4 separate regions of the Homo sapiens genome follow, and regions 1, 2 and 4 are each linked to region 3. Evidence: fine-mapped expression QTL. A gene starts in region 3. Each other region holds a variant in brackets. All regions are shown on one strand. Distances are between the middles of the regions.

Region 1 (6,221 bases), 61 kb after region 3:
AAAAGAATTTTGCTTTGGGTGCTTTTTTCATTTTAGACAGGCAACCCTATTCAATTTCCCGATTGTTCTTTGGTGGTTTTCCAGTTTGTGTGTGAGGCAGGGAGGCTCACAAGGAAAAGAAATGAAGGAAATCCAGCTGGATCCTAAATTTGACTGGAAAGATAAAGGGCAGTGATTCTCAAGAAGGGGGCTTACCTGAATCAGCTGGGATGCGTTTGCATTGCAAGCATCCCAAATTCCAACACACCCTCCCTTGAGAGACACTTCTCTTCTGCTCCTGCTCCTTGAATAGCTTGTGGATTGTGTGCTTCTCATGTGTAAGGGCAGAAAAAAGGTTGGTACTCAGTGATGCAGAGGGATGGAAGGAAATGTGGACAGAAGAGTTTGGACCTGGGGTTGAAAAGGAGATGAGAGCAGAGGTTGGGGACGTCTCTCAAGTGATGCTGACAGCGATGTTATGTTTTTTCATCGGAGTGCAGGGTGGGGAGGATTTAGAGGGTGAGATGAGTGGGCTTACTTGGGCCATGTGGTTTTAGAGTTGTTGAAGGTGGGACCGTATGGGAGAACCAGAGAAGCTGCTGCACAGGTCAGGTTTAAAAAGAAGAATTGGGCCAGTAGCAGTGGCTCACGCCTTTAATCCCAGCACTTTGGGAGGCCAAGGTAGGCAGATCACTTGAGGTCAGAAGTTCGAGACCAGCCTGGCCAACACGGCAAAACCCTGTCTCTACTAAAAATACAAAATTAGCCAGGTGTGGTGGCAAGTACCTGCAATCCCAGCTACTTGGGAGGCTAAGGCAGGAGAATTGCTTGAACCTGGGAGGCAGAGGTTGCAGTGAACGGAGATTGCACCACTGCACTCCAGCCTGGGTGACAGAGACTCTGTTTCAAAAAATGCAAAGAAGAACGGGCACCTTTCCATCTCTGTGTCTTGTTGCAGGTCCTCTTCGATGGGGAGTTTACCATGCAGGGCAGCTACTGAGGGCTGTTGAATTCTAAAGCTAGTAAGACAAAGTCTGGAAAAGGGGTGGATTAGGCTGTAGCAGGGAGGGGGAGCCCTCACATTTCCTTTGATGGTCTTTATTGACAGCCCGGCTCATGGAGTTGAACGGATCAGCCTCAGCTCCCATCCTGTTGAGCAGAGGCATTTTCATTCTTAGAGTTTTGGAGGCTTTTGCAGGTTTCCATGGGTGGCACTAAGACTTTTGCTGGGAGAATTTGGCCCAGAGCAAGTGACTGTGCATGTTTGACAGCTGGAAGAAGGGAATTTATGGATTTATGCTTGGATTTGTTCTTTATTGTTGCTGTTGTAATACCTGCTTCTGTCACTCTGAGTGTTATTTTGAAGATGGGTGATGCAGATGATTTTTTAAGGCAAGGCATAATTAAGTAATTTTTAGAAACCCATTCAACATTTTCTGTGTCGGCGATGACTGCCGTATAGTTACGATGGGTGGTGGGTGTACTCTAGCCAAAAGATGTCATAGCATCTGTAAGAGTAAACAGCCATGGATGAGTGTTTAGTTTGGTCAGTGCTGGAGAGCTTCTTATTTTTAAGAGGCAGAGTCTCGCTATGTTGCCCAGGCTGGCCTTGAACTCCTGGGCTCAAGGCTCCCCAGTAGCTAGGACTACAGTCATGCACCACTGCGCCAGCTCATCTCCAGCAACTATAGTCATGCACCACTGTGCCAGCTCATCTGCTGGAGAACCTTTTATTGAATTGACTTTGCTGAGATTTGAGACTAGCCTAATTTTTTTTCTTCTCCTTCATGTTTCTACCGTCATTGAGTTGGTTATGGTCCTGCTTGGTCATTTCCCTGGATCTGCTACTTACTGCCTATGGCAGAGGTCCCCAATCCCCGGGCCATGGACCAGTGCTGATCCATGGCCTGTTAGGAACCAGGCCGCACAGCAGGTGAGCAGCGGACAAGTGAGTGAGGATTACCGCGGGAGCTCCGCCTCCTGTCAGACCAGTGGCGACATTAGATTCTCATAGGAACGTGAACCCTATTGTGAACTGTACATGCCACGGATCTAGGTTGTGAGCTCCTTATGAGACTCTAATGCCCGATGATCTGAGGTGGAACTGTTTCATCCCAAAACCACTGCCTGGTCCGTGGAAAGATGGTCTTCCATGAAACTGGCCCCTGGTGCCCAAAGGATTGGGGACCGCTGGCCTGTAGGACCATGAGCAAATTACCTTATTATTTCAAGATCCAATTTCTTTATCTACAAATCGCAATAGAAAACATCATCTGCCTCTGGGGTGGTTGTGATGAAAAGATAAGATATCAAATGTAAATCTTGGCCCTTGGAAATACCAAGTGATCAATAAATATTAGTTCCCTTCGTCCTTTTTAGAGATAATTGATGAGACCAATATGACGTTGACTTGCTGGTTATCTTCAGATATTTCAGAGGCTGTCACATATCACACAGGAGGGACACAGTTTTTGGTGTTCTAGGGAGCAAAACCACAGCTAAAAGGTAAAAGTGGAAAGGAGACAGATTTCAGCTCAACATAAGAAAGAACTTTGTAATAATTAGACCTGTGTTACAATACAGTGGAACTCGTGAAGTAGTGAGCAATTTGTCTTGGAAGAATTTAATTAAAATAGGATTTTTTGGGCTGGGCATGGTGGCTCACACCTTTAATCCCAGCACTTTGGGAGGCCGAGGTGGGTGGGTCACCTGAGTTCAAGAGTTTGAGACCAGCCTGGCCAATATGGCAAAATCCCATCTCTAAAAAATACAGAAAAATTAGCTGGCTGTGGTGGCACACACCCATAATCCCAGCTACTCAGGAGGCTGAGGCAGGAAAATCACTTGAACCCGGGAGGTGGAGGTTGCAGTGAGCCAAGATTGTGCCACTGCACTCCAGCCTGGGTGACAGAGAAAGTCTCCATCTCAGAAAAAAAAAAAAAAAGAATAGGAATTCGCAACAGCATTCTCATTGACATTTGGGGCCAGATAATTCTTTGTTGTCAGGGGTGTGCTGTGCATTGTAGGTTGTTTACCAGCATGCTTGGCCTCACTCATTAGATGCCAGTAGCAACCTCCCCCTACGCTCCTCCCAGTGTGACAGCTAAAAATGTCTCTAGTCATTGCCAAATGTCCTGTGGAGG[G/T]CAAAACCATTGCTGGTTGAGAACCACTGAATTATAGGCTAGATGATGGCGAACTGGACTGCATCCTCCCAAGGTCAACTCTATCCTACCCAAAATTGAGTTCTTGCAATAGTAAGCTCCGGGAATTCTGGGGATGGCTTTTTGGTTTCTGATAGTACCTCCCAACCTGGGACGAAAGACTGAACTCATGTGAAATTGTAGGGGTCAATCTGGGCCACAGAGAGCAACTGAGGTCCTGCCTGGAAAGCCTTCTGCAGTTGCTTTAACGTTTATCTCTCGTTGTGGTTTTTGTAGGTCATGTTGGCAGCTTCCTATTGGTCTCTTCTGGCCCCAGCAGTTGAGATGGCCACGTCCTCTGGGGGCTTCGGTGCCTTTGCCTTCTTCCCTGTGGCTGTTGGCTTCACCCTTGGAGCGGCTTTTGTCTACTTGGCTGACCTCCTGATGCCTCACTTGGTGAGTACCACTCTACTTTTAGCTGTCGTATCGGGATACAACCAGCTCTGTGCAATGAATTTATTTCTGATCAAACCTGACATACCTGTTAATGTCTCTGTTAAGTAGCCAGTGGTATTTAAACAGAGAACAAGGCATTAGAGGAACTGATCGGTGATTTCTTTCTTAAAGTAATGTCTTGGTAATTACCCCCTTATTTACATTTTAGTAAGTTCGGATTTTGAATGTCACATTTCATTAAAAATATAGAGTACAGCTGATGTGCTGGGTGGCACTGTATATATATGAGAGGACCTAGAACGATCACTGTGGTGCTGGGTTTTATTGAGAGTATGACATCATCAGGGAGATGATACTCCCGCCCCACCCCCACAATCTGTAGCATTAGGCCTTTGACCATGGATCACATTATGAGGGCTGACAGGAGGGTGAGGCAGGGCTCTGTGCAGCAGGGGTCTGGGCTGGAGCTCACACCTGCCATTTACTGATTGTATATCCCTGAGCTCTAGTTTTCCATCCTTTAATTTGAGGATAACTCCCCCGAAGGACTGTACAGTAAAATTTTAAAAATGTAAAAATGCACTGGAATTGGGGATAAGCCAGAGATTTCAGGCTTTTTTACTGACATATGGCAGGAGAGCTGGATTTGGGAATGAGCATGTATGTGCTTACAGGGAAGCACCGTGCAAACCGCAGCCTGGCATGTGGCTGTGATCACCGAGCCAAGAGAGCTGGGGCCAGGTCATGCGATGGGAACCGCAAGCCATTGGCTAAAGCCCTGTCATCTGCATGCACCACTGTCAGTAGAGGAAAGGGGTCCAAGATCATAACAGCATGAGACAGCCTTACCAGACACTGGGCCCGACAAGTTCTAGAGATGGCAGAAGCACCCCTGAACTGGTGCCAGAGTTCCCTGCTCCCCTAGAAAGGGAAGTGGTGCAGGGAGAACTCTCTGGAGAGAAATGGGTCAAAGTCCATTTCTCCTGCTGGATCACGGTGAGACAGGATTAAGTCAGACTCACTGGAGTCAGTGGTCATGTACCCCGGGAGGTAGGTAGGTTGAAGTTCTCTTCCCTGCCTTCCTGCTTTCTTTTTTCCTTAACTTCCCAAGTGGAGAAAGAGAAGGAATGATGGGTGATTCTGTAACTATAACGATTCCCAGGAACTATGCCTCTAGGTCCTGGGCTAATGTAAAACAGATTCCTTGTGTTACAGAAGAACTGTCCTTTGGATCAGACAGCTGAATGTGATGTTGGACGGCTGTGATACTGTCTTAAAGCAGAGGTCCCCAACCCCCCAGACCAAGGACCGCTACTGGTCAATGGCTTGTTAGGAGCTGGGCCACATAGCAGGAGGTGGGCAGCCAGCTGCCAAGTGAGCTTTATCTTCTGAGCTCCGCCTCCTGTCAGATCAGCCGTGGCATTAGATTCTCAATGGAGCACAAACCCTGCTGCGAGCTGCGCATGTGAGGGATCCAGGCTGCGTGCTCCTTAAGAGAATCTAACTAATGCCTGATGATCTGAGGTGGAACAGTTTCATCCCCAACCCCCTACCCCGGCCCCTGTCCATGGAAAAACTGTCTTCCACAAAACCAGTCCTTGGTGCCAAAAAGGTTGGGGACCACTGTCTTAAAGACCATGTGTCATTTTTTGTTGTTAAAAGATTGAGTGACATGGCTGGGCACAGTGGTTCATGCCTGTAATTCCAACACTTTGGGAGTCTGAGGCGGGCAGATCACTTGAGGCCAGGAGTTAGAGACCAGCCTGGGTAACGTGGAGAAACCCCATCTTTACTAAAAATACAAAAATTAGCTGGGTGTGGTGGTGCGCACCTGTAATCCCAGCTACTCAGGAGGCTGAGGCATGAGAATCGCTTGAACCTGGGAGGTGGAGGTTGCAGTGAGCCGAGATGGTGCCACTGCACTCCTGCCTAGGTAACAGAGCAAGACCCTGTCTCAAAAAAAAAAAAAGATTGAGTGGCCGTGTCTGTCTCCGTCCCCTGGACATGTGGCTTCCTTGCTGCCGACTATGTGTGGTAGTGGCGTCCAGTGGCCCTCAATGCAGGCTGCCATATTCTGATCTCAAGGCCACCCTGGTTTTGTGTGAACTTGTTGTTGGAGTGTATTCTGCTTGCCCTGACAGGTGACCAGTGGCTTCAATCCCTGAGCAGCAGGCAGAGATCTGGCTCAGTGGCTCTGCATGGCTCCTGCTGGATCCCATTCTACTCTTCTCTCCTGCACCCAACTGGGCTTCCAAGATAGTCTCTTGGAAAGGACTCTGCAATCCTTGTGGGTCTTACTATGTTACTGGGGAGTAGGGGTGGTGGGGCGGTATCAGATGTATTTGGTCAGCTGTCTGAATGTAGGGATTTTCTCTGGGCGGTGTAAACAGTCATTGGCTAATTTGCACTATGCAGCAGTAATTTTTTTTTGTGTGTGTGTGACGGCGTCTCACTCTGTCACCCAGGCTGGAGTGCAATGGCGTGATCTTGGCTCACCGCAACCTCCACCTCCTGGGTTCAAGTGATTCTCCTGCCTCAGCCTCCTGAGTAGCTGGGATTACAGGCACCTGCTGCCATGCCTGGCTAATTTTTGTATTTTTAGTTGAGATGGGGTTTCACCATGTTGGCCAGGCTGGTCTTGAACTC
Region 2 (6,221 bases), 260 kb after region 3:
CTTTTTAATTTTTAATTTTAATTTTTTTCTTCCAGTAGAGACAAGGGTGTTGCTGTGTTGGCCAGGGTGGCCTCGAACTGCTGGCCTCAAGAGAACCTCCTGCTTCAGCCTCCCATAGTGCTGAGATTATAGGTGTAAGCCACTGTACCCAACCTACCACTATTCCTGAATACTCTCATCACCCTGTAAAGAAACCCCACACTCTTTGAGCAGTACCTCTGAGGAAAAAAAGAAACTGCATGCTTATTAGCAGTCACTCCCCATTCCTCCCTCCCTCCAGCCCCTGCACTAATCTACTTTGTCTCTACAGTTTCCCTAACCGGGACTGACTTTCATTTAAACGGTATCATGTAATATGTATGTTTTTGTGTCTGGTTTCTTTCACTTGGCATGATGCTTCCAAGTTTCGTTGATGTTGTAGCATGTATCAGTAAGTCTTTCTTTTTCTGGCCAGATAATACTCTATTCTATGGATACACCGTGTTTTGTTTACTGTTTCATCACTTGATGGACATTTGGATTGTTTTTACTTTTTTGGGTGTTGTAAGTAATGCTGCTATGTGTGTTTATGTCTTTGTATGGACCTGTGTTCTCTTGGGTACATACCTTGGAGTAGAATTGCTGGGTCATATGGAAACCTTTGAACTCTTTGAAGCCAGTTCTTTTTGTTAAGTTCCTTCCCATTCATTCCATCCAGCAGAGTCCTTTGACACAAAGGGATAATCTCTGTCCCACCTACCATGGCACTTGCTTGGGGTGTCTATGAGTCCTGCTTTTTTTTTTTTTTTTTTTTTTGAGCAATATACATTTTTATAGTACATTTTTAAAAAATCTAGTGAATTTTCCTCCAAGTCAATAGACAGGAGAAAAATAAAGTTGTTTTTTGAGCCCTGCTTTCCAACGAGGTGGCAGTTGCTGTGGATTTTGATTTTGTGTGGAATATGGAGGATCTGTTGGAATGCTGAAAAGTCTGCGGACAGCTGCAGGTGGCCAGGGAGGCTGCTGCTGCTGACATTGGTGATGTGAGCCTGGACCTTCAGCTTGCCCTTGTGCAGTCTCCCCGTGCTGCAAAGGGTGGCTTTGGAGGGGCAGCAGTGCGAGACCAGGGCCCCGACTTGCAAGAAAGGAGCTACTAGCCATGAGAAAGAACATGTTGATTTTTCATTTTCCTGGGGTAAAGACTGAGCAGAAAATTCTACTGTTAGGTACAGACCTTTCCAGGAGAAACCGTGATGCAACAGCTTCTGCTTCACATTGCTCTGCTTCCAGAAACTGGAGGGGCCTTCTCAGTAGCCGGCGACTCAGGCTCAGTTAATGAGGAAGCAGAACACCACACAAAGGCATGCATCATTGACCATAATAAAATATACCAATAATGCTAAAGGCTGCCACTTACGGGGGCCTTTCAAGGTTCCAGACGCTGTATAAAGTGCACCACATACATGATTTAGATATTTGCGTCCCTGTTTTACATTTTAGAAACTGAGACCTAGAAAGTTTAAAGATCAAGCCCAAGACCAGGCACGGTGGCTCACACCTGTAATTTCAGCACTTTAGGAGGCCGAAGCAGGTGAATCGCTTGAACCTGGGAGTTCAAGACCAGCCTGGGCAACGTGGGGAAACCCCATCTCTACAAAAAATACAAAAATTAGTGGGGTATGGTGGCGCGTGATTGCAGTCACAGCTACTCGGGAGGCTGAGGCAGGAGAATCGCTTGAGCCTGGGATGTGGAGGCTGCAGAAAACTGAGATCGTGCCGCTGCACTCCAGCCTGGGTAACAGAGCGAGACCCTGTCTCAAAAAAAAAAAAGCCCGAGGCCACACAAGCAATGATGGGTACAGCTTAACTCACACTCTGTCTCCGTGTGTTGTGTCTCACTGGTGAGCTCTGTGTTTCTTTTCTTCCCGTGGATCACACTGTTTTTCAGAGAGAGTTACAGAGAAGTTCAGGAAATGCTTCTTGCTTTTCTTAAGCTTGCCACATTAAATGTTAATGTCTGCAGCACCACGTTGGCGTAGTTCTCACTCCAGATGCATCGGGCTCAGTTCAGCAAGGAGACTTGGGCAGGGAAACCTGGGCAGGAAGCCTCACCGTACACAGGGCCCACCACTGTGGGTGCTCTAGGAGATGTGTAAAATGAATGCCTGTGAGGCCCCTGCACACCTATCACCACCACTGATGCTCCAGGACCCAAGCAGGTGGTCGCCCACAGGCATAGGACAAGCACAACCTTTAGAGCAGAAAGGCCAAGACTTGGATCCTGGAGCCACCAAATGCTTTACTAGGTAGGTAACCTTAGGTGAGATCATGAGAGTCTTAGCTTTCCCAGCTGTAAAATGCAGATAATAGCTACTTGGCAGTTCATTATTGAGACGACAGCAGTAGCAACAAGCAGGGCCACCCACTGTGTTATCTGCTATTCAGAGTGTATCGTTGGGAGGCCGAGGCATGCAGATCACTTGAACTCAGGAGTTCAAGACCAGCCTGGGCAACGTGGCAGAACCCCGTCTCTACAAAAAATACAAAAATTAGCTGGGCGTGGTGGCACATGCCTATAGTCCCAACTACTCAGGAGGCTGAGGCAGGAGAATCACTTGAGCCCAGGAGGTAGAGGCTGCAGTGAGCCGTGCTTGTGCCACTGCACTCCAGCCTGGGTGACAGAGCAAGACCTGTCTCAATAAAAAAATAAAGAGTATTGTGGTTCCTAGAACACAGCAGGACCTGGAAAACATTAATTCCCCTCCACCTCCTCCTCTTCCCCCAAACTCTACCACCCACCTACTTTTGCCTTCAACTTGCTTTGATCCTCAAAAATTGTCTGGTTCTGGTTGTGGAGGTCTTAAATGGGGACGTCACAGATGGCTTTAATTTTCATCTCCAACAGGTTACATTTGAAGATGCTTCTCATTTACTGCAGGAGTTTGAAAACA[T/C]TGTAATATTCTCCTTTAATTATCAGTATCTCAGTGGGAAGCCTGACATTATAATTAGCACAGGCTCCTACATGGGATGACATTTTGCTCAACATATCATGTTCCTGGTGTGCACTGAGGCAGAAGCCGGTAGCACACTTCTAAATGACGCTGTTGGATTTGAGCATGAGAGTTGGCACCAACGCCCAGAGGGCAAAATCACAACTCTGGGAATCCTCCGTGATCCCAAATAAAAGTGGCAGGGAAACTTTTAGACATTCTGTCATCTCCTGCACAGGCGACAGACGCGCAGATGCCTGAGCCCTACTTTCTGGCCTTCAGATCAAGGAAGCTACAGCCAGAGTGAAAGTCTAATGCTGCGCTAGGATTGGGGTTAAAATCAAGACTCATTTCCACGTCGATTGTATTATGCCATCCTCCTACCTATTATGTAAATTAAAGAGAAAACTAAAGCAAGAGAATTTGAATACATTTTTGTATTAGGAAGCAAAGTTTCCAATAACTTCCAGTTGTCTTTCTCCCATGGCCAGGTATTGGCTAGAACATGGTTTAATACAATCTTTTATTTTATTTTATTTTATTTTATTTTATTGTTTTGTTTATGGAGTTGGAGTCTCACTCTGTGGCCCAGGCTGGAGTGCAGTGGCGCAATCTCAGCTCACTGCAACCTCCGCCTCCCAGGTTCAACCTATTCTCCTGCCTTAGCTTCCTCAATAGCTGGAATTACAGGCGTGTGTCACCATGCGCAGGTAATTTTTGTATTTTAGGTAGAGATGGGGTTTCACCATATTGGCCAGGCTGGTCTCAAACTCATGACCTCAGGTGATCCACCCGCCTCAGCTTCCCAAAGTGCTGGGATTATAGGCGTGAGCCACCGTGCCCAGCCTAGTAAGATCTTTTAGACTTGCTGTGTCCAATTCCATAGTCCCTGGCCACCTGTAGTTCTCTAAATTTACATGAGTTAAACTGGAATAAAATGCAAACTTTAGCTCCTTAGCATGACTTAGCCACACATCAAATACTTGTATCTAGTGGCTACTGTGTTGGACAACACAAGATGTAGAACGCTTCCATGATCACAGGAAGTTCTACTGGATGACACTGCACTAGACCCTTAGCAAAAAAAAGTAACTTCACAAATTGTTTGTTGTGTAGTGCCTACCCAAGCTTGCCTTGGGAGGAGTTCCATTTCTGGAAGACAGTGTAAGAGAGCTGTTCTCAGTCATGGGGTATGTCCTACATATATTGTGAATAAAATAATTTAAATGTCAGCCTTTTCACATTGTTTCTGATAAATTCAGGATGCTGCAGAGTCATCCTGTGATACCATTCTCTTGCTCCTGTTGGTTCTGAGTTTTTTTCTTATTTCCTGAGTTGGGGACTGAAGTGGGTTGCGAGTTGTGCCGGGACTTGTGTAGCAGGCTCGAGAGCATCATGATGTCTGATGTCGGGGGATGGAAGGAGCTGCACAAGGGCTGAAATAGTAGCTCATCATCTTGTCCTCTGGTGTTATGTGTTATCTGCCAGTAGACAACCTCTCCTCACCCCAGCCCAAGCCAACATCATTGGTCTATGTCAGCTTAGCCCCTCTCACAGAACAGCCTCCTGTGACTTAACTCAGGTTTGAAAGAAAGGATGTTAACCGTCAGATGAAAATCACTGGAGTCTTTATTGTCAGCTTTCTGCTAGAGCCATTGTCCTGTTCATCCCCCAATGCCTCTAGATAAAACTTTTAGAATACACTGCCTGGAAAAGCTTTGCCTCCCTGTGGGAATGACAGACATTGATCGTGTAGACCTTTTTTTATTCTTTGGCTGCTAGGAAGCACAGCACTTCATTTGCTGCTTTGTGATAAGGATAAAGTGCATTCTTAAGGTCTGAATATCTGAATATCTGAATTCTTCTTCCATGTTATAACCTATTGTTGTACTGCACTTTAATCCATTTCAAAAGAGGACGGTTATTAATAATCGCTACAAGTGATTTCATTCCTGTGTTGCCAGTTTTCTTCATTTTGTTTCCTGGCCACAGACTATATTTCTAAACCAGATGCAGTGCCTGAAAAGTATTTTTATTTGATTATAATGGAGACTGGAGACCAGGCAAGAGGGAATAAAGTAATCTATTTGTAGCTTGACAATGGTCTTGATTAAGGTCTTGATTGACAAGGGCTTGATTTATTTTTGCTTCACTGTAAAGAAAATTGTAGCTTTTCTAAGATTTTTGTTTCTTGAAATACCTGGCTACTTTGCAAGCAGGATGGACCACCAAGGAGCCATCTCATCTGCTGATGAGTCTCCCTCCTCTGTTGAGGTGGCCCCATTTTTCCCAAAGCCCCAGCAAATAACAGGTTTAATTAATTGATCACGTTTCAGTTGCATACCTTATAATGGTCCCAGCTTACTCATATTCATATATGCGAATTTTAGTGCACATTAATTATGTATTTAATAAGTCCCTGTTTGTTTTGTCTCCATTCCCTTGATAGCTGTTATGGTGTGGAGTTGAAAATAATTAAAATGTTTCTAGTTTTCTGCAAATAACCATTAACCAAGGTTGGATTCTGAAATCAAAATTCCATTTTCTTTTTCTTTCTCTGGTTAAATACAGTGGGTGAAATGACACCTAAATGTACTTCTAGGTCTATTCCTTGCTCTGTTGTTTGTCCCACTTTTCAGTGTGGTAATTGCCAGCTGAGTTCTCCATTTGGCATAGATGTGTCATGACTTGACTTAAACAAAATGTATTACTTTTGGCTGTCATCTTCTCCTTGACACGGAGATAAATTCAGAGGCGATGAGCTCAGCATGGCGGTTTGGGAGAGGATAGAAAAAAATAGGTTGTTCTCCACAGAATATTCGAGGGGGTAGAAGTCTGCAAAATCAGTATGTGTGTGAAGCCCCTAGGGGGCTCGTGACGAATCCAAGCTCCCAATAACACCTAGACTTCCAAGCCATTTCAGACCACCATTTCTTCAGTGGTTCAGCTCTTTGGAGAATAGACAAGTGTATGGCTGCATGTTTTGGGTATTACCTGCCCTAAGGGACAGCACCACATCCTCATTCACGGCTCATCCTAATTGTTGCTTTGTCTACTAATGCAGTAGTTAGTAGCCACAGGGATTATACGCTCGATCCCATTTCATTTTGTCTTATATCTTGTACCAAGGTTTGTCATATGCCAACATCTTGCAGTTTACTAGAGCATGGTAACTTCCCCTATTCTCCAACCTCCTTCTCCTCCTCTTCTTCCTACTACTACTATTACTACTTATTTTTCATAGTTCTATCG
Region 3 (6,221 bases):
GAAGGGCAGTTCAGCAGAAATGGTATAAGGGAGATAGGAGTGGCAGGGAGGGAAGGCTGTGTGGAGGACAGCGAGCTGTCCAGCCTGGCTTGGCCAGAGGGCACAGGGAGGAGAACCCTGGGAGACAGACTTGAGAACGTTTAGTTGGAATCATACCACAGCAAAACTCAAATTCCAGGCTGAAGCATTTGAACTTTATGCCAAAGGCACTGGGGAGCTATCGGAGCTTTTTGAGCAGGAGAGTGTGATGTGCTGTGCTTTAGGCAGGCTGATCTTGGCGGTGCTACATGGAACAGACTAGACAGGGTGGAGTGGAAGGAGGTGACTCCATGACCTAGATGAGGGATGGGCAGGTTGAATCCTCACAGCAGCAGTGAGAAAGGAGAGAAAGGATTGGGCAGGAGAGGCACTTTGTGGATCGTTGTAAACATTTCTGTTTATTTTTCATTATAAAGAATTTAAGCGGCTGGGCGCAGTGTCTCACTCCTGTAATCCTAGCATTTTGGGAGGCTGAGGCAGGTGGATTGCTTGAGCTCAGGAGGTTGAGACCAGCCTGGCCAACATGGCAAAACCCCGTCTCTACTAAAAATACAAAAAATTAGCTGGGTGTGGTGGCACGCACCTGTAGTCCCAGCTAATTGGGAGGCCAGCTGAGGCAGGAGAATCACTTGAACCTGGGAGGTGGAGGGTGCAGCGAGCCGAGATTGCACCACTGCACTCCAGCCTGGGTGACAGGGCGAGACTCCGTCTCAAAAAAAAAGAAAAGAATTTAAGCATCCACAAAAGTAGAAACAGAAACATTTAATGAACCTCTACGTGCCCGTTCCCCAGGTTCAACAATGGTTAATTTTTTATTTTTAAGAGACAGGGTCTTTCACTGGAGTGCAGTGGCACCATTACGGCTCACTGCAGCCTCAAACTCCTGGGCTCAAGTGATCCTCCCCACTCAGCCTCCCTAGTAGCTGGGACTACAGGCCCAGCTACCATCTGCCACCATGTCCAGCTACTTTTTAAAAACTTTTTGTAGCGACGAGATCTTGCTTTTTTGCCCAGGCCGGTCTCAAACTCTTGGGCTCAAACAATCTGCCCACCTTGTCCTCCCAAAGTGCTGGGATTACAGGTGTGAACCACCATGCCCAGCCTAAGAATGGTTAATTCATGGCCAATTTTGTTTAATCTCTACTCCATCCACTTTTCTCTTCCATCATATTTTGAAGTGAGTCTAAGATATTGTGTCATTTTATGGCTATTGCAGCGTGCAGGAAGAGGTATGACATTTTGGAAGATGAGTTGATGGGCCGTGCCACATGGGTATTGTGTCTCTGTGTGCCTGTACATACTCTCTTATGTGGAATTGCAATGGCTGATTTGACTCTTCCAAGTTGGGGGTCTTTTAAGGGCAAAGACCACCCTCCAGTGGCCAGGCTGTCTTCTCCTCCCCATGGAGTGCTTGGTATATGGTGCGACCGTCAGTGTGAACAACCTAGTTCCACTGGAAGAAAGAGGCCTGTTATTGGACCCTTTGGGCTATGGCCATCGAGACCACGGGTAGCTTTTCTGCTCAGGTCACGCTCTGATATGTTGTCAAATAAAACACAGGACACTCAGCTGGGTTTCAGTTTCAGATCAACAACAAATATGCCTGTAACATAAGTATGTCCCACACATTGCCCGGGGCATATTTATAGTAATAAATGACGTTATTTTTCTGAAATTCAAATTTAATCAGGCTTTTTTTTTTTTTTTTGAGATGGAGTTTTGCTCTGTTGCCCAGGCTGGAGTGCAGTGGCGTGATCTTGGCTCACTGCAAGCTCGGCCTCTCGGGTTCACGCCATTCTCCTGCCTCAGACTCCCGAGTAGCTGGGACTACAGGCGCCTGCCACCACGCCCAGCTAATTTTTTGTATTTTTAGTAGAGACGGGGTTTCACCGTATTAGCCAGGATGGTCTCGATCTCCAGACGTTGTGATCTGCCCGCCTCGGCCTCCCAAAGTGCTGGGATTATAGGCGTGAGCCACAGCGCCCAGCCCAGGCATCTTGTTTCTATCTATTTATTTATTTTGTTTTGTTTTTGGCTAAATCTAGTCAATCCTATCCTCTGGTCTTTTCACAGAAATCCTGCAGATCAAAGCCTTTGACCTAGGGCAGTGCTTTTCAAAGGGTGGTCCCAGGACAGCAGCATCAGCAACTCCTAGCTCAAAACAAGATCTCAGGCCAGGCGCGGTGGCTCATGCCTATAATCCAGCACTTTGGGAGGCCCACACGAGTGGATCATTTGAGGTCAGGGGTTCGAGGCCAGCCTGGGCAACGTGGTGAAACCCCGTCCCTACTAAAAAAAAAAAAAAAAAAAAAAAAAAACAAAAATTAGCGGGGCTTGGCAGCATGCACCTGTGATCCCAGCTACTCGGGAGGCTGAAGCAGGAGAATCGCTTGAACATAGGAGGCAGAGGCTGCAATCACCCGAGATTGGGCCACGGCACTCCAGCCTGGGCGAAAGAGCGAGACTCCATCTCAAAAAAACAAAAGCAAAAACAAAAAAATCCCAAAATGTCAGCCCCACCCAGAATGACGGAACCAGAGCCTCTGGGGGTGCTGGCATTTTGTGTTTGACCCCCTCCAGTGATTCTTTTGAGGGTCATTGACTGGAGAATGATGCCGATGCCATCACATTACCCGCCCCCAGCCTCTCCCGCAACACACACACAGCACATCCTGCTCTGCTGCGCACCCAGTGGCATGGACCTGGCTGCCAAAGGTGTAGAAGCATAAGTAACATCAGGGGTGTTACAAAGGGCTCTTTCCTTGGGTGTTTGTAGCTTCCCTTAGGGCTGCAGTCACTCGCAGACTGCTGGGCTCTTGGCCTCAGGGCTCTGTTCTGCCCGCCCAGATCTGTTCCTGAGCCTGCAGACGGCTGTGAACCAGAGAATCTATTCTTCAGGCGGGAGTTGCCAGTTGCGGCCAAGGGGGCGGGGCCCGGAGGCGGGAGGGCCACGTGTGCGGGAGGGAAGCAGGAAGTGACTGCGGGAGTGGAGCCGGCGAGAGAGTGGCAGCGGGGGCTGATGGAAGTGCAGTGGGGGCTGGAGAGGGCACCCTAGTGAGTTGGCTTTTCTCTCCTTCGGTGCCTTTGGTTGGGCTCGAGGCCCGGGGTCGGAGGCCATCAGGACAAGAGTGTGGGACTTGGAAGGGCAGCCACCTGGAGCTTGGAAGGGGGTACGCCTGGAGAGAGGAGGGGTTTGGAGGAGAAATTGGAGGCTTTGGCAGGTGTCGGGGCGGGGTGGGAGGGTGAGGGGCGGTGGGAAGGAAGTCCCCGGACCCCGGCTATGTCCCTCTCCAGGGTGATCTGGAAGGCAATGACATGCCTTCCTTTTACAGTCCTAACCCAAATCCTCTTCGTTCGTCCCTTCCTAGGCGGTGTGTGGGGGTACCCGGGATTCCTGGGAGCAGAGGCAGCTACAAATCCAGCTGCTCCCAGGCCCCTCCCACTTGCTCTGGCTGTTAGCTGGACCTCTGGAACTTGACTGGGAATCTGGTTAACTTGCAGCAGGTCTGGGTGGGGCGTGACAGTGTGCATTTCTAACTAATTCCCAGGTTGGGTGGTCCGCGGACCACGCTTTGAGTAGCGAGGCATTAGAGAACTTTTCCACAGTCCTCTCCGCCCAGACCTGAATCCTTCTGCTGGATTCCCCCTCGTGGAGTTAGGGCATGTGTGTGCAGCTCCACTAAGGCCCAGCAGCCCTAGTGCTGTTTCCACTTCTGCAACTTCACCAGCCTCTTGAACTGACTCTTGGAAGCGGAACAACAGGTTTAAAAGGGGGAGAAAGGAAATAAAGAAAACAAACCTGTATCAATCAGCCGGGAATGCCCATGTGCTGCTGTGGCAGGTGTGTACAAGTCTACAGGCTGTTGGCATGTTAAAAGTTGGAACGGTCAGAGAATGATTCTCCCTGCTGCTAACGAATCAGGGTTGATGGAATTAATATCCCCATCGTGAGGAATTCTGAGCCCCATTGTGTAAGCTGTGATGGAGATGCTGTGTCCTAAAGTTGTTACTGGTCTGCCGGTTAGAGAAAACTTCTTGTTCTCTTGGGACTCTGCCAGAAACTTTTTCTTCTCTTGAGACTCTGCAGAAAACTTTCTGTTCTTTTGGGACTCTTCTTTGCTCTTGCCAATCCCACATGGGGCAGGAGAACTCATTTTCTAAGCTCTTGGTATTGTAGAAGTTTTACCAGTTTTATTTATTTATTTATTTTTATTTTTTTTTGAGACAGAGCCTTGCTCTGTCACCCGGACTGGAGTGCAGTGGCGCGATCTCGGCTCACTGCAACCTCCGCCTCCCGGGTTCAAGCGATTACTCCTGCCTCAGCCTCCCGAGTAGCTGGGACTACAGGCACTGGGACTACAGGCACACACCACGACGCCCAAGTAATTTTTGTGTTTTTAGTAGAGATGGGGTTTCACCGTGTTGGCCAGGCTGGTCTCGAACTCCTGACCTCAGGTGATCTGCCCGTCTTGGCCTCCCAAGGTGCTGGGATTACAGGCATGAGCCACTGCGCCTGGCCAAGTTTTACCAGTTTTAATCTTTTGCTTTCCACAGTTTAATGTGCATAAGAATCCCCCATGGAATTCCACAAAATGCAGACCCTGATTCAGAAAGTCTGGGGTGAGACCTGAGTTTCTGCATTCCTAACTAGCTCCCAAGCCGGACCAGTGCTGCTGGTTCTCTGACCACCCTTGTAGCGAGGATTTAAAACAGCAAATAGAGAAGAAACTTCTCCGAGGGGCACTGGGCTTGCATTGCCCGTGATCAATGCTGCTCCTGTTGGGATGGAAAGGATGGTGGCCTCGGTCTTCCCTCTGTGTCCCTTTTTCTTACTCAGGAGGGTGCTCAGATATACATGGGGACAGGCTTAGACGGGTGTTTCCCTATCCCACTAACCACCAGGAACACCCACGAGCTCCCTCTGTTCTGTTCACCAGCCCACAAGATCCACATTGACTTTGGCCTGTTGGCAAATGTAAATTGTTTGCTCTCTTCTGTAGCTGTCAAGAGGCACATTCAAATACAGGAAAGAAAGGTGTTTTTGTTATGCCCTGTCTTGGATGATAAGTACTAAGAGGATGATCCCTTTGTGCTGTTCTTTGTAAATGCTGTTTGAAATTTTGTCCACAGCAACTCGGAATAGATGATTGGTGTAATGGTCCAGATGGCTTGGTTTAAAAACAAAGACCAACCCCTCTTTTTAGGGTGGCTTAGCAAGATGACGGATGTAAAGGGTAGTAGTTTTTTGAAAATGATTTTTTTTTTCTTTAATTGGCGTGGTCACAGTTTTCACAGTTGGTGCAGTTCGTTTAGAGTGCGGGAACTAGAGTCTGATTCCATAGATGCTATTTATCTCAGAGTTTCTGGCACAGGGGCTGAGCCAGGGCTCACCTGGGCTCACCTGGACCTATACCCTTCCTAGGTTTGAGCCTGGGTGTGTTGCTGAGCCGCTTGGCATAAGGGCTGCGTCCACACTCTGCCATGGTTTCCTTCCAGGGTCAATCGAGGCAGCGTCTTCAGCTCTTGATCTGCAGGCTCAGGGCTGCTGGCTCCTCACAGAGCACCGGGAACTGGCAGGGCTGAGCCCAGTGTGGTTGTGTCCAGCCAGCCCTCTGGGTGCTGGCAGACCATCAGGGAGATGAATGAGGCTTTGATATGAGGCCCTGAGCCCAGTGTTTGTGTACCAGAACACAGGGCTTTTCAACAAATGGGTTTCTCTGCCTTGTAACTTTCCACAGGGAGAGATCTGATTGTCATCTCAGATCCAGAATTTTAAGCATGTTAAAGTCTGGAGGAGGTTCTCTGGACTGAAATGAGAGGGAGTGGTACTTCCCTTCCTTTCCTTGGTGGGCGGTGGTGTAACTTCAGCTTCAGCAGCAGGGTGCTGAGTTGACCAGGGGACATTCCATTCCTGGGTCCTTTTGCTTGTCCTTGCTGACTGTCCTGTGCAGGTAAGCTGGCCCTTTTCCATCCAGCACATATTTTTCAGGGGTTACAAAGCCCTATTTTACAGGGGTGCCAAATGTGAAAAAGCACCGTCCCCGTCCTCAAGCAACTAAGGCTGTAAAAGATGGAGGCAAAGCCACACTGAGAGAGGACCAAAGCTGCATGCTAGGACAGGGCTGGGGAAGGCCAGAAAAGCCTTGGTCGTGAGGTTGGCATTATGTGGGCTGCAGAGGGTG
Region 4 (6,221 bases), 31 kb after region 3:
GATAAATTCAGTCATGACTGTTTAATGCTTCTGTGCCCTCCGGAGAAAAGAAAGAACAAAATACCAGGGAGAGAAACTTTTTTAATAGCTTGTTGGTGGAAGCTGATCTTTGCTGCCACTGTGCCCTGGCTTCTAATCCCACATCTGACTTTGGCTCAGGGCCATGAGCCACAGTGCTTGGTTTCTGCAGACTCACTGAACAGCAAACCAAATGGAACCATCAGGCCCGATGGTGAGAATTGTGTGTCTGACACACAGATGAAGGGGAGGCTTCACACCGACCAGTGCGTAGGTTTTCTTTCTTTTTTTTATTTCCTTTTTTTTTTGCTGTAGCATTTCTTTGGAAACCTCTGTCAATTTCTGAGGCGCTGGTCTTCTTGTAGAGAAATCAACCAAGACAGCCCTGGAGCTAAATGAGTTAGTTCTCCAGGAGTGTGGAAAAATTAGATACCTGTTAAATGCATAAACAAGGGGAAACCAGATTAGTATTGTATTTAAGATGGAGGAAGGGACACACGGTCATTGCCTGTGCATAAACTTTAAACAGATTACAGACGTGAATTTGCTGAACACTTTGTAATTATGCATGAAGATTTCTGTGTGGGGGAGAGTATCCATGGGCTGATGGCAGCGAACACTTGCATCTTATGGGCTCAGGAGCCCCAAATATTATTATGTGACATTGGTTTATTGCTTTATACTTTTTGAAGCACTTTCTCATCCGTTACCTCATCTGACCCTTGCAATAATCTTGTGGCCATAGGTTTTATTTTTAATTTTAATTTTAATTTTTTTTTTGAGATGAGCCTTGCTCTGTTACCCAGGCTGGAGTGCAGTGACACGATCTCGGCTCATTGCAACCTCTGCCTCCCGGGTTCAAGTGATTCTCCTGCCTCAGCCTTTAGAGTAGCTGGGATTACAGGCACGCGCCACTGCACCTGGCCTTGAAAAGCTTCTTTTACCCTCTGAAAATACATTTTGACACAATTCGTTAAAGTCTTGCAGCATTTAATTATATTAGAGTTTATAAGAGTGAAAGATACATGAGGTTCTATTAGCAGCGTAGGCCTTCCAGTAATTATTTCATAAGGGGTCAATCTGTATATCCCAGTGAGAATGGATCTGATTGCCATTAGTGCTAACGGTAGTACCTTTGGCCAAGTCAATCCAATTGATTCAGTTACCTTCGTCAAATTCATTTTTAAAAATGCCTTTTGTCATTTTTATCTTTCCAAAAGACTGAGGGTGATAGAGACAATGCTAGTACCTTGTGCTTCTAACATTTTAACTCTTTTATAATTTGTCCAAATGGATTCCTGTGTCACTAGAGATTTTGACAGGGATGTCTCCTCAAGCAGGGGCCCCCAACCCCCAGCAGGCCCCCAAGACTTACTGGTCTGTGGCCTGTTAGGAACTGGGCCACACAGCAGGAGGTGAGTGGCGGGTGAGTGAGCAAAGCTTCATCTGTATTTGCAGCCACTCTCCATTGCTCTCATTACCTCCTGAACTCCTCCTGTCAGATCAGCAGCAGAATTAGATTCTCACAGGAGCACAACTCCTATGGTGAACTGCACGTGCAAGGGATCTAGGTTACGGTCTCCTTATGAGACTCTAACGCCTGATGATTTGAGGTGGAACAGTGTCATCCCAAAACCATCCCCCACCCCCAATCCGTGGAAAAACTGTCTTCCACGAAACCAGTCCCTGGTGCCAAAAAGGTTGGAGACCACTGCCATAAAGGAAATAAATTTTGTAATAACTTCCTTGCTACTGTCATAGCATTAGCTTTTCTACATGGAAAGTTTCTATCCAACCAGGAAACATGCAAACTGTTGCAAGACATACTGATATCCTATTGAAGGTGGCAATTTAATGAAATCCCTCTGTAGATGTTCAAATGGCCTATCAGGTAGCAGAAGTGTATCACCTAAAGTTTTTTTTTTTTTTTTTGAGACAAGCTCTGGCACTATCACCCAGGCTAGAGTGCAGTGGTGCAATCTTAGCTCACTGTAACCTCCTCTGCCTCCCAAGTGGAAGCCATCCTCCTACCTCTGCCTCCCAAGTAGCTGGGACTACAGGCATGCATCACTACACCCAATTTTTGTATTTTTTTTTATAGAGATGGGGTTTTGCTATGTTGCCCAGGGTGGTCTCGAACTTGTGAGCTCATGTGATCTGCCTGCCTAAGCCTCCCAAAGTGCTGGGATTACAGGTATGAACTACTGCGCCCGGCCTCATCTGAAGTTTTGATTGTCTTTCCAGGATTATGAGTTTGACAAACTAAGCACTCACTGGTTACAAACCATCCTAGTAATTCTAGAACAGTCGCCACACCATTATTTTTCCATAATTTGTTTCATTTTGTCTGTGGTATGAAGAGTCATGGAACAGAGGATTTTTTTTGTTTTGTTTTGAGGCAGGGTTTCAGTCTGTCACCCAGGCTGGAGTGCAGTGACGTGATCACACGAGGTCACTGCAGCATTGACCTCTTGGTCTCAAGTGATCCTCCCACCTTAGCCCCCTGAGTAGCTGGGACCACAGGCTTGGGCCACTACACCCGGCTAATTTTCGTGTTTTTTTGTAGAGATGGGGTTTCACCATGTTGCCTAGGCTAGTCTTGAACTCCTGAGCAGAAGCAATTCACTCGCCTTGGCCTCCCAAAGTGCTGAGATTGTAGGCATGAGCCACTTGCCCAGCCTGCACAGAACTTTTAATAATGGAAGCTTTAAGGACTCAGAAAAGACCAAGTAGTTGTCTAAGCCCTCTATGAGTCTACGCTTAATGTTGAATTTACATCCTTTCAAGTACAAGTTTTATTTCTCCAATTAAGATGCATAACCCTGTCCAATGAATAGGTCATCATAGGTGATTTGACTTGGATAAATCTTAGGGAGTTCATTCAGCTTCTATATCTTAACAATTTCACAATCAACTGACTTAGCATGAAAATCTGACTTAGCATTTAAGTAATTCTTGTTCTTTTGATGGTGGGTTAACAGTTTTATGAACCAGTGAGTTTCTTC[A/G]TACGAGTTCTGAGAATTTTTTTTTCCTTGAGACAGAGTCTTGCCCTGTTGCCCAAGCTGGAGTGCAGTGGTGCAATCTCAGCTCACTGCAACCTCTGCCTTCTGGGTTGAAACGGTTCTCTGGCCTCAGTCTCCTGAGTAGCTGGGACTACAGGTACCTGCTACCACTCCCGGCTAATTTTTGTATTTTCAGTAGAGACGGGGTTTCACCATGTTGGCCAGGTTGGTCTCGAACTCCTGACCTTGGGATCTGCCTGCCTTGGCCTCCCAAAGTGCTGGGATTACAGGCATGAGCCACCACGCTCGGTGAGTTCTGAGAATTCTTACCCAGTTTAATGATACGATCTTAAAGTAATCACAAACCTGTACTTGTCAGAATCTTTTCCGTGAGCCTCCTTGAAGACAAAACTATATAGGCTTATAGTTGCTTAGGAAAGTACCGAGCAAACAACCGTCTGTGAGTGACAGGACTTAAAATGTCCATGGTTAAAGAGCTGTTGAAATTTCATTCAATAATGACACAATTGACAAGGAAATTTAGTTGTTTCTGTGGAATACAACCATTTAACATAATAACTGAAATTATGGCTGATCACGTATCAAATTTCTAAAAATTGTAAACAATTTTCTAGAACACATATGAGTAAAATTCAAAGAAGGTTCAGCATTACTTATTATTTGACAGTACTTCCCATATAATTTAGTATACTAAATAAGCCTAATTCGTATAATATCTCCCCTTTACAAGGTGAGAGATGTATCCTTTGAGGCTTTCTCAGGGCCCAGCAAGAGAATCCCAAAGTTAATTCTTGGTCAGAAAGACTAAATTTAGAGTTTGATTTTGGTTTAAATATCACCAAGGTTTAAAACATTTCATCAAAATGGGATCACAAGTAACTATGAAATAATAGTCATTAATTTAACCAGAGTGATAAAGACTTCAAAGGTGAATATAAAAAGCAACATATTTGGAGGAAAAACCTTAGCTCTTTAATAGTTTTCTATAGTTATCAAAAACCTGATAAAGACAACGTGAAGGACAAAAAGTTATTTTGGTAGAACGCAGTCTTCATTTCCTTTGCCAGTTTCCTAAAAGGTAAAGAAACCCCCCAACTTTTTTTTTTTTACCTTGTTTTCTTTTTTTTTCTTTTTTCTTTCTTTTTTTTTTTTTTTTTTTTGAGATGGAGTTTCATTCTTGTTGCCCAGGCTGGAGTGCAGTGGCGTGATCTCGGCTCACTGCAACTTCTGCCTCCCGGCTTCAGGCGAATTCTCCTGCCTTAGCCTCCCAGGTAGCTGGGATTACAGGCACCCACCACCATGCTTGGCCGATTTTTGTATTTTTAGTACAGACAGGTTTCACCATGTTGGCCAGGCTGGTCTTGAACTCCTGACCTCAGGTGATCCACCTGCCTCAGCCTCCCAAAGTGCTGGGATTACAGGGGTGAGTCACCACGCCCTGCTGATCACAATAAAATTTCTTTCACATGATTCACCGTCCACAAACCTCCTACAACCTTCTTATATTCCATCAGTTTTTTATTTATCCTATCTATACCTTCCCTCTTTCTCATTTTGGGGCAACCTGTCATTCTACGTTAGGGTGAAAATTACTCTTTTTTTCCTTAACAAAGACACATATTTCATACCTCATAGCTTCACTTAACAAAAACATATCTTTTTTTTCCTTGCATATGGAGTTGTTTCCCATATTATTTCCAGTTTTTTTTTTTTTTTGGAGACAGTTTCAGTCTTGTCGCCCAGGCTGGAGTGCAATGGCGCGATCTCGGCTTACTGTAACCTCAGCTTCCCAGGTTCAAGTGATTCTCCTGTCTCAGCCTCCTGAGGTGGCAGCCGCCCCCATGCCCGGCTAATTTTTGTATTTTTTGTGGAGACAGGGGTTCACCGTGTTGGTCAGGCTGGTCTCGAACTCCTGACCTCAGGTGATCTGCCTGCCTCAGCCTCCCCAAAGTGCTGGGATTACAGGCGTGAGCCACTATGCCTGGGCTTATTTCCAGTTTTCACTAGCTTATATTGATTAGAATTTTAAACTGTTACTAACCTCAATTTCTAGTGAAAACATAAGAAGTAAAACAATTTTAAACTGTTATATACTAACATTTCATGAATATACATTTGTAATTTCTAGAAATATGTGCTTCCTCCTAGAACAATGTTTTCATGTTTATGAACAAACCCAAATATATTCAGCTTCTCTATATTGTACAAAACCAAGATGCCAAAGTATTTATACTTGAAACTTATGTTTAGCAGTTAATGTTCTAGTATTTTAACTAAGAAATGACTCAGACATTTTATAAATATCTATTACTTTAAAATTCCAAATTGCTGCAAAAGATTTTTGAAACAATGACAAATTCATTTATAAACTTTTATGCTGTCCATATTCACCTAATTTATTCTTTTTTTTTTAACAGTTATTATTTAATTGCTCACTAAACAAAACTAGCCATTGAAAGCATTCAGGGAATGCCACCCCAAAATGTGTTGCTTTGGTAGTCACATTTTTGGTATATTAATTACTTTGAGTTGAAGGCAAAACACAGGGCAAGGCCTCCTGAGTTCTCTTTCATCTGCCAAAAGACAGATCCTACAAAAGGAACTCAACTGCGTCAGTCTTCTGAAGATTAACCCTTTTTTATTTTTTTGAGACAGAGTTTCGCTCTGTCAGCCAGGCTGGAGTGCAGTGGTGCGATCTCGACTCACTGCAACCTCCACCTCCCAGGTTCAAGCAATTCTCTTGCCTCTTTCTCCCTAGGAGCTGGTATTACAGGTGCCTGCTACCATGCCTGGCTAATTGTTGTATTTTTAGTAGAGAGGGGGTTTCGCCATGTTGGCCAGGCTGGTCTCAAACTCCTGACCTCAGGTGATCTGCCCGTCTGGGCCTGCAAAAGTGCTGGGGTTACATATGTCAGCCACTGCACCCGGCCAAGATTAACTCCTATCACAGGAGACGAGATCAGAAGGCCACCCCAGCTGGCCCATCATCCATTCTTCCAAGGACCTATCTATCTTTTCCGCATTTACTCTGCGGATATTTTCTTTATCCCCCGACTGTTTTCATTCTAGCAAGGGGGTTAAATCAGAGGACACTTCGATTACTCATTATTGCCCCCAGGGATTGTCAGCTAGCCTGATAACCAGATTTCAGGCCAAAATAGTATTATTTGCCAAGACAAA

Which allele goes with the higher level. Positions count from the first base shown, and alleles are read on the strand shown. Sizes are in standard deviations (SD) of each study's normalised expression. Not every link is listed here.
With allele G in place of T in region 1, the expression in cerebellar hemisphere of the gene that starts at base 3,016 in region 3 is higher (moderate effect, 0.41 SD a copy in GTEx).

The links. PIP is the estimated chance that this variant, and not a neighbour inherited with it, causes the effect.
Region 1: its variant is fine-mapped to the expression of SLC39A11 in cerebellar hemisphere (GTEx, PIP above 0.99).
Region 2: its variant is fine-mapped to the expression of SLC39A11 in whole blood (TOPMed, PIP 0.98).
Region 4: its variant is fine-mapped to the expression of SLC39A11 in whole blood (TOPMed, PIP above 0.99).

What each region holds. Positions count from the first base shown.
Region 1 is chr17:73,028,910-73,035,130 of GRCh38, reverse strand. SLC39A11 (solute carrier family 39 member 11) reads left to right here. Exons shown (of 10, transcript NM_139177.4): 4 at 3,417-3,575. Among named protein-coding and RNA genes, the nearest start is that of SLC39A11, 61 kb to the left of the region's middle. The variant G/T (reference allele first, on the strand shown) is at 3,123.
Region 2 is chr17:72,831,935-72,838,155 of GRCh38, reverse strand. The region is part of intron 6 of SLC39A11 (solute carrier family 39 member 11); the gene reads left to right. Among named protein-coding and RNA genes, the nearest start is that of LINC00511, 190 kb to the right of the region's middle. The variant T/C (reference allele first, on the strand shown) is at 2,931.
Region 3 is chr17:73,089,483-73,095,703 of GRCh38, reverse strand. It overlaps SLC39A11 (solute carrier family 39 member 11), which reads left to right and starts at 3,016. Exons shown (of 10, transcript NM_139177.4): 1 at 3,016-3,093. RefSeq lists a silencer at 3,856-4,087 and enhancers at 5,058-5,558, 5,559-6,059.
Region 4 is chr17:73,058,191-73,064,411 of GRCh38, reverse strand. All of the region lies in intron 3 of SLC39A11 (solute carrier family 39 member 11), which reads left to right. Among named protein-coding and RNA genes, the nearest start is that of SLC39A11, 31 kb to the left of the region's middle. The variant A/G (reference allele first, on the strand shown) is at 3,024.